Regions from separate parts of the Homo sapiens genome. Here region 1 is linked to region 2. A link means that fine-mapping ties the variant in region 2 to the expression of a gene that starts in the linked region. Tissue or cell type: whole blood. Region 2 holds a variant in brackets; the other region holds the start of a gene. All regions are shown on one strand. Distances are between the middles of the regions.

Region 1 (8,212 bases), 34 kb after region 2:
TGCTGCTCACCTCCGGCTGTGCAGCCCGGTTCCTAACAGGCCACAGACCACAACAGGTCCATGGCTCAGGGGTTAGGGACCCCTGTTCTATTTATTTATTTACTATTTATTTATTTTTGTAAATTGATATCCCATTTCAGTACCCCTGTTTTAGAGCAGTGGTTCTCAAAGTGTGGTCCTCAGACCAGTAGCATCAGCTGGGAACTTGTCAGAAAAGCAAATTCCTAGGCCCTATCCCAGAGCTACTGAATCGGAAACTGTATAACAAGCTCTCTACGTGATTCAGAAGTATATGTAGTTTAAACACTACTGTGCTAGAGCATCTAGAACTCTGTATACCCAAAAAGGTATGTGGTAGGCACATAATAATATTTATCAAAAGACAAGCCTGGACCTTGGGGTCTGCAGACACACCCCTGAGCTCCTCCCAGGTGAATTTTCATCATCCTTGGGTCTTATCCCTGCCATACCAGGATTCCATCCTAACCTCCCCCACACACAGACACAAAAATATATAGTTAAACCTTCTCTGTGCTTTCATAGCTACTTACCTTTCTTCTGTCATATACATGGGTGGACTACAGACCATAGATTATGGCCATGAACTACCTGGGTTCAAATCTCCACTCAACCACTTAGTACTTATGTTCCTTGGGCAAATCATTTGAACTTTCTGAGCCTCAGTTTATTCATTTGTAATGAGGTACCTACCTCACTGTCTTGAGAAGTTAAACAAATTATTCTAAGATTAAATGAGTTAACATATGTGAAGGCACATGGTAAGAACTATGTGTGAACTCTATGAGAGACAGAGTGTGTGCTACTGTCTTACTGTACTTATCACACCATGTTGTAATAGCCTAGGCTGTAAGTGGTAGGGATGGGGAAGAAGCATACTAGACTAGGACTAGTCTCTCTCTTGAGGGATAGACGCTGAAAAACGTTTGATGAATGGATGGTAGATCCTCCATGCTCTTTCAACTGCCCTACACTACCTCACAGTGGCTGCCAGCCCTAGAGATGTTCTAGATAGTAGGACAACTTGTTCTACTGGAATTAATTACCATCAACTCAAGCAAGAAATTCTTCCCTATGAAAGAAGCACATGAAAGAAGATACACAAATGGTCAATACGCATATGATGCTCAACATCGTTAGCCATTAGAGAAATGCAGATCGAAACCACAATGAGATATCATTTCACACCCACTAAATGGTTATAATCAAAGACACAGGCCAGGCGTGGTGGCTCCCGCCTGTAATCCCAGCACTTTGGGAGGCCGAGGTGGGCAGATCACCTGAGGTCAGGAGTTCAAGACCAGCCTGGCCAACATGGTGAAACCTCGTCTCTACTAAAAATACAAAAATTAGCCAGGCGTGGTGGCAGGCACCTGTAATCCCAGCTACTCAGGAGGCTGAGGTAAGAGAATTGCTTGAACCCGGGAGGCAGGGAGGTTGCAGTGAGCTGTGATCGCACCATTGCACTCCAGCCTGGGTGACAAGAGCAAAATTCCATCTCAAAAAAAAAAAAAAAAAAAAAGACAAGTACAAGTGTTGTTGAGACCGTGGAGAACTATGAACCTTCATACACTGCTGGTGGGAATGTAAAATGGTGCAGCCATTGTGGGGAAACAGGTTGGCTATTCTTCAAAACGTTTATAACATAGGTGCCATAGGACGCAGCAATTCCAACTCCTAGGTATATATCCAAAAAAAGGAAAAGGTACATCCACACAAAACCTTGCACATGAATGTTCATAACATCATTCATGATAGCCAAAAAGTATAAGCAATCCAAATGTCCATCAACTGATGAATGGACACAATGGAATATTACATATACAGCCACAAAAAGGAATGAAGTACTGATATACCTTACACCGTAAATGAACCATGAAAGAAGCCAATTATAAATAAATAACAAAGCACCTCAAATTATATGATTCCATTTATACAAAATGTCCAGAAGAGGCAAATCCATAGAGACATAAAGTGGATTCGTGGCTGAAAGGGACTGGAGGGCAGTCTAACTGGGGTTGGGGAGTGACTGATAATGGGTCCAGCGTTTCTTTTTTGGGGGTGATGAAAATGTTCTGGAAATAGCTAGTTGTGATGTTTGCACTACTCTGTGAATATACTAAAAAACACTGAATTGTACACACCAAATGGGCAAATTGTATGGCATTATATCTCAATAAAGCTGTTTTTTTTGTTTCGTTTTTTGTTTTTTGTTTTGTTTTGTTTTTTGAGACGGAGTCTCCCTGTCACCCAGGTTGGAGTGCAGTGGCACGTCTCGGCTCACTGCAGGCTCCGCCTCCCAGGTTCACGCCATTCTCCTGTCTCAACCTCCCGCGTAGTTGGGATTACAGGCGCCCGCCACCTCGCCCGGCTAATTTTTTGTATTTTTAGTAGAGACCGGGTTTCACCGTGTTAGCCAGGATGGTCTCGATCTCCTGACCTCGTGATCCGCCCGCCTCGGCCTCCCAAAGTGCTGGGATTACAGGCGTGAGCCACCGCGCCCGGCCTGTTGTTTTTTTTTTTTAAAGTAACTAAAATGGTAGTAAGAATGACCATTTCTAAGCGCTTGCTAGTGCCACATACTATGCTGAACAGCTTTTGTATATTCATTGTCTGGAACTTCAAAAAAGTCAAGAGTCTACAAAATATTCGTAATGACCCTAGGCCTTGGGGCACATAGCAGGGGCTCAACAAATAGCTCTCTCTGCCTGATCTAGTGTTCGCGAAGGGAAGTGCTGGCACAGACCAGGGTTTGTAACAAAAGCCTTGGCGAGGAGTAGCCTGGTGCTGGACGAAGAGAGGCCTGTTAACCCCGAACCTAAACTGGAGGGAAACGGGAGAGCAGTGCTGTGATCCTGAGGCAGAGCTGAGAGAAGGAGTTCTGGGCTTGATATAGGGCCTGGTATAAAGCAGAGTGACGGTCCTGGACTACCTCCTGCCCACGAGAGGTGTCGTGTTGTGTTTTGTTTTGTGATGGGATCTCTCTCTGTCTCCCAGGCTGCAGTGCAATGGCACGATCATAGCTCACAGCAGCCCCAAACTCCTGGGCTCAAGCGATCCTCCCGCCTCGTTCTCTCAAAGTGCTGGGACTACAGGCGTGAGCCACCACGCCCAGCCCCAAGAGAGGTTTTTGTATGGCAGGAAAGGAAGGGCAGTGGTAGTTGCGCACACAGACTCTGGAGTTGGATTAAACAATCTGACTCCATTGTTTAAACACGTTTCTTAGCCGCAGTTGCTTGTTACCTTACTGATAAAATGAGGGTAGTGATAGTACCTACCTCACAAGACTGCTGTACAATTAAATGAGTTCACTACAATATGGAAAGTACTTAGAACTACACCTACACATTGTTAACAGCTCATTGTATGTTTGGGGCTGCTAGCCTCTTCATCATTGTTCTGTGTGAGAAGCACCATCTGACTAGATTCCCAAGGGAGCGGAGGGAAGGAACAGGAAAGGGCGAAGAGAGGCAGGCACGAACATCCACTCTTGGGGGTCCAGTTGTGCAACGTGGCCTCCACTTACACTGATTATTTTACACTGATTTTGCGTGTGTCCATGCGCTGGGAGGAAAGGGAGGACGTGGTCTGCCCCAACCCCGCTGCTCAAGGTCCTCCAAGGGTCCAGTCCCCGGCTGGCAGCCTAGGGCACGTGAGGGCCGGGAGGCTCACCCGCGGCGGAGGGTCTGGGGTCCGGGAGGATCTGGGCAGCGGAAGAAGGGAGGAGCGCGGCTGCACGGGGCGGAGCTAGGGGAGGTCCGGCAGGAGGGAAAGGCCTGTCCGGAGAGAGGGACGCGCATCCGCTGAGGCCGCGCCGGGCGCCAAGGGCGCGGTACCTGGAGTCGAACTTCTGGCCGTCGGGGAACGTCCCCACGTAGTGGTAGCGCACGAAGTCGCCGCTGCGCACGGTGCGCGGGCACTCGTCGGGCACGAAGCGCCGCTCGATCTGCAGCTCCGCGTCGGAGCCCAGGCCCGCCACGGGCGCTGCCTGCCCGGTCACCCAGAGCAGCAGCAGGAGCAGCGGTGGCGGCGGGGGCCTCCAGCCCCGGAACGCCATCGGGGCGGCGAGAAGAGTGGCGCGGACGCAGCGCGGCGCTCGGGCGGCACGGGTCGGCCTGGGCGTTCGGCTGCGTTTGCAAACGTGGACCGGGTCTCCTGGCCCTACCCGGGCTGCAGCCGCCACCCCGTCTCCCCGGCCGCCCGCCCTCCCGGCCGCAGCTCCAGGGGAGGAGCCCAGCCTGGCCGCGCGCCGAGGGCGGGCCTGCTGCGCCCTGCCCCGCCCGGCATTGGGAATGTGCGTGCCGCAGCGGGGAGGGGGGCTGGGAACTCCAGTGGGGACCAAGTCTGGGCCTAGAGAGGGCGTGTCCCCGAGCGAGACACTGTGATCTCCGGACAAGGCTTTGGCCCAAAGTCGGAAGAGAAAAGCGCGTACTGCCCAAGCCCACCCGCTGGTCTCCGCCCGTCCCTGGAGACACCGGGTTTGGTGCCGTGAGGGGCTCCTACGTGGCCGTGGATCCAATTTTCCCTTGCTGCTTTGGAGAGGGAGGGAAAATTAGATTTTAATTTTTTAAGCTTAGTTACAAGGGTATGGTCTACCTTGAAAGAGACCGAAACCATCCTTCAGGACTTTTTTTTTTTTTTTTTAATACTGCTTAAAGGAAAAGGAAGGCCGGGCGCCGTGGCTCACGCCTGTAATCCCAACGCTTTGGGAGGCCAAGGCAGGCGGATCACGAGGTCAGGAGATGGAGACCATCCTGGCCAACATGATGAAACCCCGTCTCTACTAAAAATACAAAAAAATTAGCCAGGCTTGGTGGCGCGTGCCTGTAGTCCCAGCTACTCGGGAGGCTGAGGTAGGAGAATCGCTGGAACCCGGGAGGCGGAGGTTGCAGCGAGCCGAGATCGCGCCACTGCACACCAGCCCTGGCGACAGTACGAGACACTGTCTCCAAAAAAAGAAAAGGGAGGCATGTATTGCGAGAGGCTCCCGTGACACTTGTCTAGGCAAAAGTTTTAAGGCACCGTGAGGGTCCTCCAAGCCATCAGCGGCCGCACTGTGAGCTGATACTTGCAGACATCCTACAAGCTCCCATATACGAGCCTATGCCAGGGAGGACTTCATCATAGAGACCCAGAAGCCACAGGAATCCATTAGAGTAATCAGATGCACTTGGAATTGGAATTGGGTGTTATAATTTATTAAAATTTTGGAATAATGAAAGCAAATCACCAACTCTTTCTCAACTCGTTTTGGAAGCAAACACAATTCTGATACCAAAACCTGGCAAAGAGAGCAACAAAAAAGAAAAATAAAACTGAAAAAACAGGGCACGATCTAATTTATAAATATAAATGCAAAAATACTGAATAAAACGTAATAAAATCGGATTCAACCGCATATTAGGCCAGGCGCAGTGGCTCACACCTGTAACCCTAGCACTTTGGGAGGCCGAGGTGGTTGGATCACCTGAAGTCAGGAGTTCAAGACCAGCCTGTCCAACATGGTGAAACCCTGGCTCTACTAAAAATACAAAAATTAGCAGGGTGTGGTGGCACGGCCTGTAGTCCCAGCTACTTGGGAGGCTGAGGCAGAAAAATTGCTGGAACCTGGGAGTCGAAGGTTGCAATGAGCCGAGATTGTGCCACTAAATTGCACCACTGCACTCCAGCCCAGGCGACAGAGTGAGACTCTGCCTCAAAAAAAAAATAAATAAAAAATTTAAAAAACGGTATGTTAAAGGAAAAATATACCATTACATGGGCTACCTAGGTGAGCTTCTGTAAATTAACAAAATGTCAGTGTTCTCTGTAAGATGAAGATAAAACAATCATTATAAGATTACTATAATCTTAGGTTTCAGGGATCGAATGAGAAACTACATGAATAACAAGAAAAATGTTCATTGTTCATCTTAGAGCTTATTCTAGAAATAGAACACCTATTAATAAAATTATAGGACAGAAGAAGGGAAAAAAAGCTCTAAGATCATGTGGCCATAGACTCAAAACGGCATGAGATAAAATTCAACATCTACCTCTGATTTTGAAAACAAACAGAGGGCCTGGTGGCTCACTTCTGTAATCCTGGCACTTTAGAAGGCCGAGGCAGGAGTATCACTTGAGCCCAGGAGTTTGAGACCAGCCTGGGCAACATGGCAAAACCCCACCTCTACGAAAAAATACAAAAATTACTCACCCCTGTAATCCCAGCACTTTGGGAGGCCAAGGGGGGCAGATTGCTTGATCTCAGGAGTTTGAGACCAGCCTGGGCAACCTGGTGAAACCCCGTCTCTACTAAAAGTACAAAAATTAGCTAGGTGTGGTGTTGCATGCCTATAATCCCAGCTACTCCGGTGGCTGAGGCAGGAGAATCGCTTGAACCCCAGAGGCAGAGGTTGCACTGAGCCAAGATCGCACAATTGCACTCCAGCCTGGGTGACAGAGCAAAACTCTATCTCAAAAAAAAAAAAAAAAAAAAAAGAAAAAACTTTCTGATTGTAGTCTATTAAGTCTATTAATGGCACTGACCACCAAAAAGTACTTTTGCATGTCATCTTTGTGTTGTCAAACAATACCTTGATTTTGAAGTATATAATCATTGATAATAAAAATTGTTATACATTTTATTGGCATGAATTCAGACATTCAGTTCATTCACTACACATATACTTTGGTCCAGTCTTTGCTTCACTTATGTCTCCGTGGCTTCAGGCAAGTCAGGTAACTTCTTACTTCCACCCTTGACTGTAAAACAGATGATACTTATCTTGCCTACTGACCTCTTACGGCAATTTGGGGAAATATCTTGGTGCTGAATTAGTTTCTAGGCTCAGACGCTAAACATACAATACATATTAATTGGTAAAGACTTGGGATTTGAAACTTGATCTTTTGAACTAGATGCCAAGAAGTCCAATCTTCATGACAACTCTGTATAAGGTCATAGGTGTAATCACTACTTTACAGAAAAAATAAACTCCAGCCTGGGCAACTGAGTGATACCCTGTCTCAAAAAGAAAAACAAAAACCAAACAAAAATTAGCCAGATGTGGTGGTGTGTGCCTGTAGTCCCAGCTATTTGGGAAGCTGATGTTGGAGGATCGCTTGAGCCCTGGATGTTGAGGCTGCAGTGAGCCATGATTTCACCACTGCACAATTGGCCTGGGTGACAGAGAGAGACTTTGTCTCAAAAAAAAAAAAAAAAAAAAAAAAAAAAGGTAGAGCAGGGCGGCCTGCACCTGTAGTCCCCGTTCAGCTACTTCGGAGGCTGAGGTGGAAGATCATCTTCAACCTAGAAGATGGAGGCTGCAATGAATTGTGATCACACCACTGCACTCCAGCCTAGGTGACAGAGTGAGAGCCTGTCTAAAAATATATATAAAATAAAATAAAAATGAATGTCTGCTCGTGGTGGCAGGATCTAGGAGCCTGTAGTCCTAACTACTTGAGAGCCTGAGGTGGGAGGATCTCTTGAGCCCAGAAGTTCAAGTCCAGCCTGGGCAACATACCACGACTCTGTCTCAAAAAAGAAAAAAAAAATCTTGCTATTAAAAAATGTCACAAATTTTTTAAAGACAAATGATAAATTAAAAAAATACTTGGCCAGGCGCTGTGGCTCACGCCTGTAATCCCAACACTTTGGGAGGCCGAGGCGGGCGGATCGCGAGGACAGGAGATCGAGACCATCCTGGCTAACACGGTGAAACCCCATCTCTACTAAAAATACAAAAATTAGCCGGGCGTGGTAGCGGGCGCCTGTAGTCCCAGCTACTCAGGAGGCTGAGGCAGGAGAATGGCGTGAACCCGGGAAGGGGAGCTTGCAGTGAGTTGAGATCGCACCACTGCACTCCAGCCTGGCGACAGAGCAAGACTCCATCTCAAAAAAAAAAAAAAAAAAAAAAAAAAAACAACTTACGGCCAGGCATGGTGGCTCACGCCTGTAATCCCAGCACTTTGAGAGGCTGAGGCGGGTGGATCATGAGGTCAGGAGTTCAAGACCAGCCTGGCCAAGATGGTGAAACCCCGTCTCTACTAAAAATACAAAAATTAGCTGGGCGTGGTGGCAGGCATCTGTAATCCCAGCTACTCGGGAGGCTGAGGCAGGAGAATCACTTGAACCCCAGGGACGGAGGTTGCAGTGAGCCCAGATCACACCACTGCACTCCAGCCTGGGCAACAGAGTGAGACTCTGTCT
Region 2 (8,212 bases):
GAGGCTGAGGTGGGAGGATCACTTGAGGCCAGGGGTTTGAGACCAGCCTAGGCAACACAGCCAAATGTCTCTACAAAAAAATTAGCTGGGCGTGGTGGTGAGCACTTGTAGTCCCAGATACTCGGGAGGTTGAGGCAGGAGGATTGCTTGAGGCCAGGAGGTCAAGGCTACAGTGAGTTAGGATTGCACCACTGTACTCTAGCCTGGGCAACAGAGTGAGACTCCGTCCTCAAAAAAGAAAGAAAGAAAGAAATGAAAAATTCAGACATGATATTACTTATTCAAGAGAATAACACAGCTAATGACAAAATTCAGATAGAGATACACAAACTCCAACAGTCCCTCCTTACCTCCTGTCCCAACACGTACTTTTCTGTGTCTGCTTCTTGATTGGTCTCTCTCCTATCTCTAATAGAAACACACTCACGCTCATATTTAATAGGCGTTTATTGAGTACCAGGCATTCTTCTAAATTAAACATGTATTGTTTAATTCTCATTAAAATCCTGAGAAAATGGAGGTACAAATTTTGGGGCTGGCCAAAGTTAAAGGTAATAATTTGAGAAGCGTGTGCTTTAATAGCAGAACACAGGTGCCTGCTACTCACTCAAAACAGGGGCTGCTGGTGTGGGTGGAGTGGGGTGCAGGCTCCTTCCCACAGGAACCAGGAAGTACAGCCTGCCATTGGCCAGAAGGCTGCTCAAAGCCAGGCCACGGATGGCTCTGTGTGGGAAGCTAACACACATGGACAGGGTGGGTGTCTGCAGAGGCAGATCTATGGTTCCTCAACCTTGGTAACCTGTTAAAAATCACCTGGGAATGAACCCGAAAACATTATGCTAAGTGAAAGAAGCCAGACACAAAAGGCCACATACTGTAGGATTCCAGGGATATGGAAACATCCAGCATAAGCAAATCCATACAGACAAGAAATAGACTACCTGTTGCCAGCGTGGGGGAAGTGGATGGATGAGGACAGGGTACGGAGAGTGACCGCTAATGGTTATGGGTTACTTTTTGGAGTGATGAAACTGTGCTGGAATTAGGTAGAGGTAATGGTTATGTTACCTGGTTAATATACTAAAAACAACTAAATTGTAAACTTTAACATGATTATTTTTATAGTATGTGAATTATATTTCAAGAAAACATTAAATAAAAATATCTTTCTTGGGTATATATACAAAAGAATTGAAGCTGGAGATGCGAACAGATATTTGTACACTCATATTCACAGAAGCATTAAGCATTATTCACAACAGACAAAAAGTAGAAACAGCCTAAGTGTTCATCACCAGACGAACTGATCAACAAAATGTAGTATATACATCCAATGGAATATTCATTCAGCAATAAAAAGGAATGAAATTTATTAGCCAGAAATGAGGAATTAATTTTTTTTTTTTGAGATGGAGTCTTGCTCTGTCATCCAGGCTGGAGTGCATTGGCATGTTCTCAGCTCACCGCAACCTCCGTCCCCCGGGTTCAAGCGATTTCCCTGCCTCAGCTGAGATTACAGACGCGTACCACCACACCTGGCTAATTTTTGTGTTTTTAGTAGAGACAGGGTTTCACCATGTTGGCCAGGCTGATCTTGAACTCCTGACCTCAGGTTATCCGCCTGCTTCAGCCTCCCAAAGTGCTGGGATTACAGGCGTGAGCCACCGCGCCCAGCTTGAAATTTTGATAAATGCTAAAATACAAATAGACCTTGAAAACATTATGCTAAGTAAAATAAGACAGACACAGAAAGAGAAATATTGTATGATTCCACTCAAGTGAGGCACTTAGAATAGGCAAATTGGTAGAGACAGAAAGAAAGGTGGTTGTCAGAGGTTGATAGGAGGGAGGAATCGGGAGTTATTGTGTAATGGGTTTATGTTGGGGATGATGAAAGAGTTCTGAGTGTAGATGATAGTAATGGTTATACAACATTGTGAATATATTTGATGCCACTAAACTGTACACTTAAAATGGTTAACAAGGTAAAGATGTTAAGTATATTTTACCACAAATTTTAAAAACTTCTAACACTGAGCTAAGCAGTCACCAAATTTTATCAATTCAAATATAATCTCCCCTCCAAGATGCATTCAGGTGCAGGGCCTTCTCCAGGGCAAAAGGGAATGCATCTGGAACCACCCACATCCCTGGGATCTGATGTCAGCAGTCAAATGAACTCAGCCTCTCAGGCCCCGAGGATTCCAGGCACAAGAATTCCAACCAGTGTAGAGGTCGATTCACACCCAGTCAAGGAACCATGTAGCATCAGGTGAGTATGTCAGCTTCTAGGAAGTTAACGTGAGTCAGTCTCCCAGGTGCCTGATAACCTCTGAGGCACACACATTATTGAGGGCGTCAACAAGGAAACACTCTCTGTGTGCGTAGGAAGTTTTGTTTGTGTTTCTTTCTGCTGAATCCCTAACACCGTGAGCAGGGCCTGGTCATGAAGAAACTCAATAAATCTTTGATGGATGGATAGATGGAGTTTCTCCGCCTGCAAAAATGAAGATCAGAGCCTTGAACCATAGACCCCACCTACCCCAGGCAGCACCAAGGCTTCGAACCTCTATCCCTCTATCTTGCTCTGACTTCCACAAAGCTATTTGTAGATTAAGTATAGAAATGAGTGCTGACCAGCAAACGGGCAGAAATAGTCCAACGTGGCTCCAACACCAACCTCCTCTCTGTATAAACCCTTAACCAATGCAGAAGTCATCATTCTGTTCTCACCATGAGGATGCCTCCCTCAGAAGAGATACAGATGAGAAAAACTTAAAAGCGGCCAATAGCCCACCCAAGAAACTCTGCAGCTCCTGCTGGGGGTGGATTTCCTCTGCTGGTGGTGGGTTTCCTCTGCGGTGGGTGGGTTTCCTCTGCGGGGGGTGGGTTTCCTCTGCAGAGAGTCAGTTTCCTCTGAGGGGGGTGGGTTTCCTCTGAGGGGGTGGGTTTCCTCTGCGGGGGTGGGTTTCTTCTGAGGGGAGTGGGTTTCCTCTGAGGAAGGTGGGTTTCCTCTGAGCGGGTGTGTTTCCTCTGAGAGCTCTAGGACTTCTGGTTTGAGGTCTCGGTTCTCCACATATGGGTATCAACAAGTCACTACCTAATGGGGACTCATTCTTTCTGTCTGTCTAGGACACATATGGGTCAGAGAGCCCTGGGTCCAATTCCAGCTCCATCATGGATTAGCTATTGTGGCCTTGGACACATGGGTGGAACTCTCTGGGCCTCATTATATTTCTAAACAATGAGGGTAATGATGCCTCAGAAGACTGTTTCCAGGTTTGAATGAGTTCATGTGCAAGAAGTCCCAGACACACAGTGGGTAAAATGTAATTTATTAACTTTCCTCTCTTTCCTAAAAGGGTGCTCAAAAGGTAATCTGGAAGTTGAGTAACAGCAAACCATCGATGAAGTGATGCTTACACATCCTCGCAGGCAGAATCCATTCTCCACTTTGAGGCTGCAAACCCATCCAAATGCCCTAATTTCAGGGCTGACCCATGGAACAAAGCAGATGGCAGAAAGATCCAGAACCTCTCCCAGGAGGCCTACCCTTTCCCCTCCACCAATCTTGCAGGGGAAAATGGCTGTGACAGAATGAAATGCTGATAGAGGCTGAGAGCACACGGTCAGCCCACAATTCATTCCTTCCACAAATATTTGCCAAACATTCACAATGTGCCTGGCCCTGTGGTATGCAGTGAAGAAGCCACTAAGAAGACAGTTTCAGCATCCTGACCCCTCTCGGGTCAGCCCCTCAGGGATCAGCACGAGCTCCTATGTAACCCCCACAAAGAGGCCAAGGGTGCTGATCAGGAGAGGACAGAGGCAGACTCCACTCAAGAGCACTTGGGGTTTATACCTCAGGGTCACTCAGGGTGCCCTCCTCCCACAGCAACGTGATTCAGGATGAAGGAGTCTCATTGCCCAGAAAATTTACGAGCCTTCGGCTGCTTCCCAGAGGCTTATATAATTCTTTGCAGAGCTCTGTCTCATACTTGATAGAAAGCCAAGAGGAAAAAAAGTAATTTAAGCAAATGTTTTCCATCAATGCATTCTTTTCAAAGAAAGGAAAGATTAGTCCTCAGGCCATAAAGAAACAAGAACATTCAGAAAGTATTTATCTGTTTCTGTTTATATTTGACTAGAAGTAGAAATCCACACGATAAAAAGCAATAGAGAATCAAGACACTAGACAAGCAGGATGTGTGAAGAAAGCCCTGTCGAATGGATCTTAAGCTGTGATCTGTTGTGGTTTAATCAATCAGAAATTTAAGTCAGGGAGAAAAAAATATTTCTCCATTGTACAACCTACCTTCCAACCAACTTGACGTTTCTTGGATCCTCTG[G/C]GATGAACACTACTGGGAAAACTCTCAAGATACATATGATGTATCAACAAAAAAACAGAACAGAACTAACAAAATAAATGTACAGCCAGCAAGGCCAGCCTCCATCAGCAAAAGAATACAAAAACAAAATAAATACTGCATCAACTATTGCTAAGCGAGGGAGCAGCCATTAAAATACATAGCATAGAAAGTTGTTCACAACATATCTGTTGTTCACCACAAATTAGGTGAAGAGAGAAATCACAAAGTAATACGCATAGACAATCCCATGTTTGTCCGTATTGATTAGTGTAGGTGGGCATTTTTTTTTAAACCTATACATAAACTCAAAGGTACAGAAGGACATTCACTTCATGGCTGCATTTGTTTCCTACTGTTGCTGCAGCAAAATACCACAAACTTGTTGGCTTAAAACAACGCAAACGGATTCCCCTAATTCTGGAAGGCAGAAGCATAAATTCAAGGTATTGTTAGGGATATGTTCCTTTTGGAGGCTGCCGGGGAGAATGTGTTTCCATCTTTTCCAGCCTCTCGGGGCCACCTTCATTCCCTGACAGGGTCCTCCTTCTGTATCTTCTAAGTCAGCAGTTTAGCACTTTTTCCCCGGTCTGACCCCCTGCCTCCCTTTTACAAAGACTGTTGCAAGTATTTTGAGGCCACCTGGATAATCTAGAATACTATTCCTATCTCAAGATCCTTAATCAAATCTGTAAAGTCCCTTTTAATAAGGTAACAGGAGGCTAGGCATGGTGGCTCACACCTGTCATCCCAGCACTTCAGAAGGCCAAGGTGGGAGGATTGCTTGAGCTCAGGAGTTCCAGACAAGCCTGGGAAACATAGCAAGACCATGTCTGTCTTTACAAAAAAAAAAAAATTGCTTTTGAATTAGCCGTGCATGGTAGCACACACATGTAGTCCTAGCTACTCAGGAGGCTGATGCAGGAGGATCACTTTAACACAGAAGCTGGAGGCTGCAGTGAGTTAGGAGCTTATCTTACCACTGCACTCCAGCCTGGGCAACAGAACAAGACTTTGTCTCAAAACAAAATAAAGTAAGGTAACATACTCACAGGTTCTGGGGATTAGAACATAGATACTTGGAGGGGCTGAATATTCTGCCTACCAGATTAAGATTAACAATATTTGTTTCTGGCATGGCATGGCGCTCACATCTATAATCCCAGCACTTTGGGAAGCCAAGGTGGGCAGATCACTTGGGCCAGGAGTTTGAGACTAGCCTGGCCAACATAGTGAAACTCCATCTCTACTGAAAATTAAAAAAAAAAATTAGCCAGGCGTGGTGGCACATGCCTGTAGTCCCAGCTACTTGGGAGGCTAAGGCACGAGACTCACCTGAACCCAGGAGGCAGAGGTTGCAGTGAGCCAAGATCGTGCCACTGTACTCCAGCCTGGGTGACAGAATGAGACTCTATCTCAAAAAAAGAAAAAAGAAAAAAAGGAAAAAAAATCTTTATTTCTGGGTGGCAGGATTTCTTTGCTTAACTGTATTTTCTTTTTCTAAAGTCAACATGTATGATTTGTGTAACTTTTAAAAGGAAGTGTGGTATGAGGGTGACAAAAATGTTCTAAAACAGGATTATAGTGATGGTGACATAACCCACTAAATGTTCTAAAAGTCACTAAATTGTATACTTAAATGGGTGAATTTTATAATATATAAAACAAAAACCAAAGAGGGGCTTTTGCACTTACTTTCAATGGTTCAGCCCAAAATAAATAAATAAATATAAAAAGAGATCAAATATAGCAAAATGTTAACAACTGGCAAAACAAAGTGGAATTCACCATAACGTGCTTTTGACTTTGGTGTAGGATTTAACATTTTCAAAAGGTAAAGGAAAATGGGCAGAGAAACAAGGAGAAATAACAGGACAACTCTAGAAACTAAATCTATTTGGGAATTCCAGTCTTAAGCTGGACTTTAGCTTCAATATTTTGGCTCTCAAGAAGTTCTGTGCAGGGTGTGGTGGTGCGTGCCTGTAGTGCCAGCTACTCTGAAGGCTGAGGCAAGAGGATCACTTGAGGCCAAGAGTTCCAGGCCATAGTACACGATGATCACACACTACACTTTCCAGCCTGTTCAACAGAGGGAGACCCTATCTCAAAAAGAAAGAAGAAAAAGAAAAAGAAGCCCTGTTTCAAGCAATGTGGAAGCAGCCACAGCTAGTGAGGAAGGCAGGTGATGCTGATGCTCACCTCTTCCTTCCTCTCCATACCCCAGGTGAGGCGGGACCACAATCCTTCGCTTTTCTCCAATGCAAACACCAAGTAGACCTTCATCCATCCCAGGAATCACGTAGCCCTGCCCAATGTACGTGTCAAACGTGCGGTTCCGAGAGTAGCTAGAAAAGAAGAAAGGAAAGAAAGAGGTCATTCATGAGGGCCTCCACAGCAGCTGTGCAAATTAGTTGGGAAAGAGATGCAAAGGCACACAGAGGCCTCCAGACTCCGGAACAGCGTAAACCACAGTATCTGACGACACAGCCAGGAAACATGCTCCCCTGGAAGGGTAAATAAGAACCCCCACACAGCATGTGAACAGCCACCTGTAGGGACACGCCATGTGGCCCTCCAGTTTCATCAGGTTATGAATGCAGTGTGGGTTATGAGAAGCACCACACAGAAATGGAGCTAATGTAAATTGAACACTATACTTTCTTTTTCTGAGGCAAGGTCTCACTCTGTCACCCAGGCTGGTGTGCAGTGGCACCATCATAGACAGCTCACTGCAGCCTCAACCTCCCAGGCTCAAGCAATCCTCCCACCTCAGCCTCCCAAGTAGCTGAGACTACAAGCACATGCTACCACACCTAGCTAATACTTTTTTTTTTTTGTAGAGATGGGGTCCCACTATGTTGCTCAGCCTGGTCTTGAGCTCCTGGATCAAGTGATCCTCCTGACTTGGCCTCCCAAAGTGCTGGGTTGACAGGTATGAGCCACCGTGCCCAGCCTGTACACTCTATAACCATGTCAAGTTAATGAAAACAATCAAGCTCTCAACCAGCCTGGGCAACATGGCAAAACTCTGTCACCACAAAATTACAAAACTTAGCTGGATGTGGTGGCACACACCTATAGTCCCAGCTACTCAGGAGGCTGAAGTCAGAGGACTGCTTGTGCCGGAGAGGTTGAGGTTGCAGTGAGCCAAGATCACAACACTGCACTCCAGCCTGGGTGACAGAATGAGACCCTGTCTTGAAAACAAAAGACAGAATCGAACGTAGCCCTTATCAGAAACTACGAATGTGTCACAAGGATAATGTCTCCAATATCTAAAGAGAAAATATCTGCATATGTGGGACATGAATATTCTGTTTTTATTTTCTAATTACTTTTTAATTTTTTTTTTTTTTGGAGACAGGGTCTTGCTCTGTCTCCCAGGCTGGAGTGAAGTGGTCTGGTCTCAGCTCACTGCAGCCTCAACCTCCTGGGCTCAAGTGATCCTTCCACCTCAGCCCCTCAAGTGGCTGGGGCTACAGCATGCAATACCATGCCTGGCTCATTTTTGTATTTTTAGTAAAGATGGGGTTTCACCACGTTGCCCAGGTTGGTCTCGAACTCCTGGGCTCAAGCGATCTGCCTGCCCTGGCCTCCGAAAGTGTGGAATTACAGGCTTGAGCCACAGCACCCAGCCTGACATGAAGATTCCGATCGCCAGGAAAGCAGCATACACACTGAGAGTAATGAATTCCGCACTCTCCACCACAGCCCGACAAAAGGCCCCCACTATCACCCCTGCTCACCCCGCCACCCTGGTGAATACTTGGGTTTTCCAAGTGCTCCTGGCAGGAGCCCCAAGTCCACTCAGTGGAGAGATCCAGCCTGTGTGTAAACTACTGAGT

Evidence for each region. PIP is the estimated chance that this variant, and not a neighbour inherited with it, causes the effect.
Region 1: it holds the start of FKBP9, and the variant in region 2 is fine-mapped to the expression of FKBP9 in whole blood (INTERVAL, PIP above 0.99).

Annotation. Positions count from the first base shown.
Region 1 is chr7:32,953,437-32,961,648 of GRCh38, reverse strand. It overlaps FKBP9 (FKBP prolyl isomerase 9), which reads right to left and starts at 4,209. Exons shown (of 10, transcript NM_007270.5): 1 at 3,855-4,209. The coding sequence starts at 4,075. RefSeq lists a silencer at 3,953-4,422 and enhancers at 4,513-4,562, 4,412-5,362.
Region 2 is chr7:32,987,007-32,995,218 of GRCh38, reverse strand. FKBP9 (FKBP prolyl isomerase 9) reads right to left here. Exons shown (of 10, transcript NM_007270.5): 6 at 6,567-6,712. Among named protein-coding and RNA genes, the nearest start is that of FKBP9, 34 kb to the right of the region's middle. The variant G/C (reference allele first, on the strand shown) is at 4,350.